Regions from separate parts of the Homo sapiens genome. Here region 1 is linked to region 2. Evidence: fine-mapped expression QTL. A gene starts in region 2. The other region holds a variant in brackets. All regions are shown on one strand. Distances are between the middles of the regions.

Region 1 (2,810 bases), 200 kb before region 2:
CAGGGCTGAGGAGCCGAGGAGGCGTTCCTTAAGCAAAGGTTATGCTAGGTCTTCTTTACCCCTCTTCACCTCCTACCCACTGCTGGGCAACATGACCTATCTTGGGCACTAAGTTCTTTTGACAAATATGAGTGTGGGCCTGTGGTCTACACTGTTCACACCAACACCAGCTCAGTTCCCAAATCCCTAGGCTCTGGGATGGTTTCTTCGTCATCTGGTCACCCCATGCACATTCATTCAGTTAGGAGGGAAAGCAGGCTTTCTTGAGTACCTACTATATATCAGGCACTGTGTAAGCTGCTTTTCACTCACCAGCTCATCTACCCAATAACCCTACCATGTGGTATGATACCGTTAGTTGCCTTGTTATAGATGGGGAAATTACTATTATTTTTTTTTCTTCTTAGATATCAGATGGGGGAAATTAAAGCTTAGCAAGATTGTGAAACAAGACCAAGGTCACGCAGACCTCAGCAGCTGGCAGGAAAGCCCAGGCTTGCCTGGCCCCAGAGCCAATGCCCTTTCTACCATGCCACCCTGCCTGGGATGTTCCTTTCCCTCCACGCTTTAGAAATGCAACTGGGATGATTCTTACAAGGGCATTTCCCATTCCAGAGCTGCTGTGAAGTCATGTAACTTAGGATCCTTTTTAACTTTTCCCCTGTGGTGGCATTCCCCCTTCCTCCTCCTCTTCTATTTGTCATTTATACTAAGGTGCAAATTTCTGGCATCACCACTATTGGGCAGGATCTGGGGAGTCCCAGGGGCTTTCCAGGGCCCTGAAATACTTCCATCAGCCCCCAGGGATGCCCTCACAAGACACCTAGACTAGCTAAAAGGAAAAACTACAGAAATAGAATCTGTGGGGAGACAAGCACATGTACACCTTGCCAGCGGTACTTTCAAGGGATTACATTTTTCTGGAGAGCAACCTGGTGATAATAACAGGAACTAAAAAGCATCCATAGCCTTTCATCTGGTAATCTGGTAATGTAAGTTTGGAAAATAGGCCTCCAGGAAATATCCCAAAGGGAAAAAAAAAGTTCAAAGATATTCTCAGCACTGTTTACTACAGT[TA/T]AAAAAAAAAATACTACAAGCAACCTGAATAATCCATAATAAAGCAATTGGTAGGAGACAGGTAAGAGAGTTATCTCAACCTAAGAAAATGTATGCAAAATAGTACACTCACATTCACAAGGAAATTCAAAATGGCACAAATAGTATGTAGAGACTAATCACTACTTAAAGAAAAATATTTGAGGCTGGGTGCGGTGGTTCACTCCTGTAATCCCAGCACTTTGGGAGGCCGAGGTGGGTGGATCACTTGAGGTCAGGAGTTTGAGACCAGCCTGGCCAACATGGTGAAAGCCCGTCTCTACTAAAAACACAGAAAAATTAGCCAGGCGTGGTGGTGCATGCCTGTAATCCCCGCTACTCGGGAGGTTGAGGTGGGAGGATTGCTTGAACCTGGGAGGCAGAGGTTGCAGTGACCTGAGATCACGCCACTGCACTCTAGCCTGGTGACAGAATGAGACCCCATCTCAAAAAAAAGAAAAAAAAAAGCACTTGATAAATACATGATGATGAGGAAAAAAGAGAATGATATAAGATGCATTGCTTAATAGGCTCTGTCTTTTTTAAAACTGTTTAAGTTCATCCAAGAAGATAAAAACAGACAACAACAAAACACTAACATATCCTTAAGCAGAAAAGGTGGAAGAGAGAAAGTAGGTGCCAATACAAATGCAGGAAGGAGACAAAAATATGGGTTAAAATGAAAGCTATTTCATTCATTCATTCACTCTTTTTTTTTTTTTTTTCTTAGCATTTCCTTGGCACCTACCATGTGCCAGACACTGGGCTATGAGCCCTGGGTTATTACAGTGATGATACAATAGGTTGCTGTCACTGCTAGACCTTTGTCATCAGAGGGCTTCCTGTGCTCAGGGGACAGCACTCTCCAGATCCTGGCTCGCTGCCACAGTTGTCACTCTGAGTGGAGGAGAACGGACGCGGCCCTCAGAAGGCAAGCTGCTGCCCGAAGGACCTGAGTCTGCCGGACTCCACCTGGAGCCAGAACCACGATCCTCTTCATAACATGAGGCCTTTTATGGCTCTATCTGCTCCCCACTGTCTGGGCCCAGTGGTAGCAGAGGGGTTGACAAGGACTCCACATGCATGGCACTGAACTTCTCCATCAGAGTAGCCCCCTCCAAAACCACAAACACACACCGCACAAGTCACATGTGTTTAAACACAGGAGTCACCACAGCTTTGGTGAAAACTGGGGGCTACCAGCTTGCAGATAAGCTGTTGAATTCTACCTTAGGATGACACAGCTGATATCGCCCCCAGAGCACTGATGGGACAGGTATGGCAGACAGCTGGACCTGGGCACGGGGGAGCCACAGACCCCAGGATCTTGGGGAGAAGATCCATGAGCTGGGATTCCCCATATTTAAAATACCTGATAGAATGGCTGGGCATAGTGGCTCACACCTGTAATCCCGGCACTTTGGGAGGCCGAGGTGGGTGGACCACTTGAGGTCAGGAGTTCAAGACCAGCCTGGCCCACATGGGAAAACTCCGTCTCTACTAAAAATACAAAAATTAGCCAGGTGTGGTGGCATGTGTCTGTAATCCCAGCTACTCGGGAGGCCGAGGCAGGAGAATCGCTTGAACCTTGGAGATGGAGGTAGCAATGAACCGAGATTGCGACACTGCACTCCAGCCTGAGAGACAGAGTGAGACTCTGTCTCAAAAAAACAAAACAAAACAAAAAACCCCCCAAAACAAACCTGCACATGTAC
Region 2 (2,810 bases):
TGATTTATTTATGACGACCATATGTGTTTGATGCCCAATTGCAGCAGGTTGTGGCTTCTCTTGCATATCTTGGTCTGGGATGACCTATCTACTCAGTGTGTCCCATTTCAGGTACCGTATTTCCATGCTGGGAAAAGAGAGATGATGACTGCTGAGGGGCTGCACATACAGATGCTCCTAACCCTGCTTGCCACATAACAATCTGTGACCAAATGCAAAGTGGGCCAAATGTAACTTGCTGCAAAGGTTTGCCATGTACAATGGTTTTCAGTGGTGAGTGGAGAAGTAGCTGCTGGAATGACTGACCATGTGGGGTTCATTAAGCTGTTGTGCATTCACCCACGAGAAAGGCTGGGATGCTTGTGAAGGGAACTCCACTCTTCATTTCAGAAATTTTAACGCCCCACCATTTGGCAATGATGCTCCCAAGGAGAATGGCAGATATGCATCAGAAGGTTCAAACGTGGAGTCCAACTGAAGTGCAGTAAACTTCTGCCTTCAACAGTCTCACCCCCCTTTACCCCCCCCCCAGTTGTATTTATACTTTGAAAGAAGTTAACATGAAGCAGTAGTCACCTGGGCGTGCTCAATTTTTGACAAGCCTTAGTCACTCTGTACCCAGCAGAACAATTCACATTATATTCGAAATCCTGTGAAGATTCTGCCACACATGCTAACACTAAAATGCCAGTAGCTCCACTTACCTTCTTTATTAAGCCTCATAACCTCCCTGCTTTTTCCACCCTCTTTTCCAGCCTCTTCTAAATCTACATCTGCAGATGAAAAAGAAAAGGAAAACAGAAAATAAGGAAAAAAGGGGGGAAAAAAGCCAAAGTCAAGGGGGGAGGGAGAGTGTTTATTTGCAAACAGATCGATATAAATACTGTATATGAAATTCTTTCAAAAATTGACAATGCAACATTTTCTCCCAAGTCTGGGTTTCCATCTACCTGGCCCAGATAGGTACCCAAAAAACTATGCAAGCAGCAACAAAGTAGCCTTTTAAACGGACAACACCGTGGGGCTGCGAGCCCACCCCGCGGGCTGCCACGGGGAGCCGGGCACAGACAGACAGACAGCCCTGGCAGCCGGGCCTCTCCCTGTGCATTGATGATCTGTCTCTGTGTGTATTTATTTAGAGAGAGAGGGAGAAGCATGGAGGACACCGGGGGCCACTCTCTCTCTCACACACACACTTTTTCCCAGTGGCTCTAGGTGAATGGAAAGGTTACAGGATAATAAAAGGAGGAGGAGGTGGTGGGGTTCTTACTGTCGGAGCAGTGTAATTTGGCGGCGTCGATCCAGGAGGACCAGGGTTTGCCCAGAAACGCCTCCGGACTGGGCACTTTGCGATCCAGTGTCGCCATTGCTCTTCCTTCTTGTTGCTTTTTCCCTGTTCCTTCGGCAGCAGCAGCCGAGAGACACGGGATTCGAGAACGCTCCGACGTCATCTTCGGAACGTTCCGACATTGAGTGTTCTGAAAGGGGGAGGGAGGGAGGAAGGGCGGGATGGGAGGAGGGCGGCGGAGGAGGAGGGGAGAGGGAGCGGAGGAGGGGCGGGCGCTCGGGCTCCCGGAGCCGGCTCGGTGGGGCTCGCGCGCCCGCGGCCGCCAGGGGCAGCAGAGAGGCACCTGCAGTCCGCGCCCGCCCGCCCGCCGGGGCCGCCCGCCTGCCGGGGAGGGGCAGCGCGGACGGGCGAGCGCCGCGTGCGGGAGAGCGAAGGCTGCAGCGCGCCCGGCAGCCGGGATGCAGCGGCGCCGCCCAAGCCTGGGGCGCAGGGGTCGGGGCACACGGGGATAGGCCCGACGCGGGGCCGAAGGAAGGGTGGTCTTTCCCGCAGAGTTGCCGCTGGAGGACCGAAAGTTTTGCAGGCAGCCCTTGCTTCCAGCTTGTCGCTCTCTCCCCGCGTCCCTGTCGCCCAACGCGAGGCGCCCCCGCTGGGGTCCCGACGGCTTGGTGGGGAGGAGCCGTGAGGGGTTGCGCCCCCCACCCCCACCCGAGCCAGGGAAGGGACCCTGGTGACCTCGCCTCCCAGCCCTCACCCCCGTCACCCCTTTCTTCTCTTTCCTGGAGGACTTTGGACCATGGAGATTCTGCAGTTGTTGCTCTAGGAGCTGAAACCAGTGGGTAGATGTCGTTCTGAAACGCAGGTGAGTTTGGAGCGCTACGAGCTACCTTCCCATCTCAGGCTGCGGGGCGTGCAAAACTCAAAAGTTAGGGCCCCCGGACCCCCGGGTTCCCCGCGCGGTGCGTATCTCCGGCTCTCAGAGAACCACTGCATGGACTTTGCTCCAGGGTCAGCAGAGCGGGAGGGCGAATTTACGGCTCTTGGAAGACGACGCTAACGGGCCTAGCCCCTGAGCCGTTTCCAGCGCTCCCTGCCGTGAGACGAGGGTGGCCCGGGTTTGCGCAGGCAACCTTTGGCCAGGAATCTGATTCCTGGGAGAATTCACTTCAGGCTTAACTGCTCTAGCCAGCTAGAAAGGGAGCGCTAGATTTCCTCTGGATTTTGGACGTTGGGTGCTTTAGTTGAGATTTTCACCCTTTAAAGAAGGCTTTAAAAAGTCTTCTGTTACTTCTTTTTAACAAATCCTTTTGTTTACTAGAATTATCTAAACTATATGGACACCGCCCTCACCCCACAAGCGACATATTTTTTTTTCTCTTTCGCCAGCACCCTTTTAGCTCTCACCACTGCTGTTTCCCAAGTTGTCACAGCTGAAGCGCACTGATTGGAAGTTGCTTTGTACTGACTGAGTTCTGCCCTGGCTGAACCATCTAATAATTTCCCTGAGCTTGGCACCCTGTAT

What was found.
Region 1: its variant is fine-mapped to the expression of ATXN7L1 in whole blood (INTERVAL, PIP above 0.99).

The regions. Positions count from the first base shown.
Region 1 is chr7:105,674,081-105,676,890 of GRCh38, forward strand. The region is part of intron 3 of ATXN7L1 (ataxin 7 like 1); the gene reads right to left. Among named protein-coding and RNA genes, the nearest start is that of EFCAB10, 94 kb to the left of the region's middle. RefSeq lists enhancers at 1,829-2,329, 2,204-2,253. The variant TA/T (reference allele first, on the strand shown) is at 1,077.
Region 2 is chr7:105,875,108-105,877,917 of GRCh38, forward strand. It overlaps ATXN7L1 (ataxin 7 like 1), which reads right to left and starts at 1,492. Exons shown (of 12, transcript NM_020725.2): 1 at 1,271-1,492; 2 at 705-773. The coding sequence starts at 1,451. RefSeq lists a silencer at 1,535-1,744.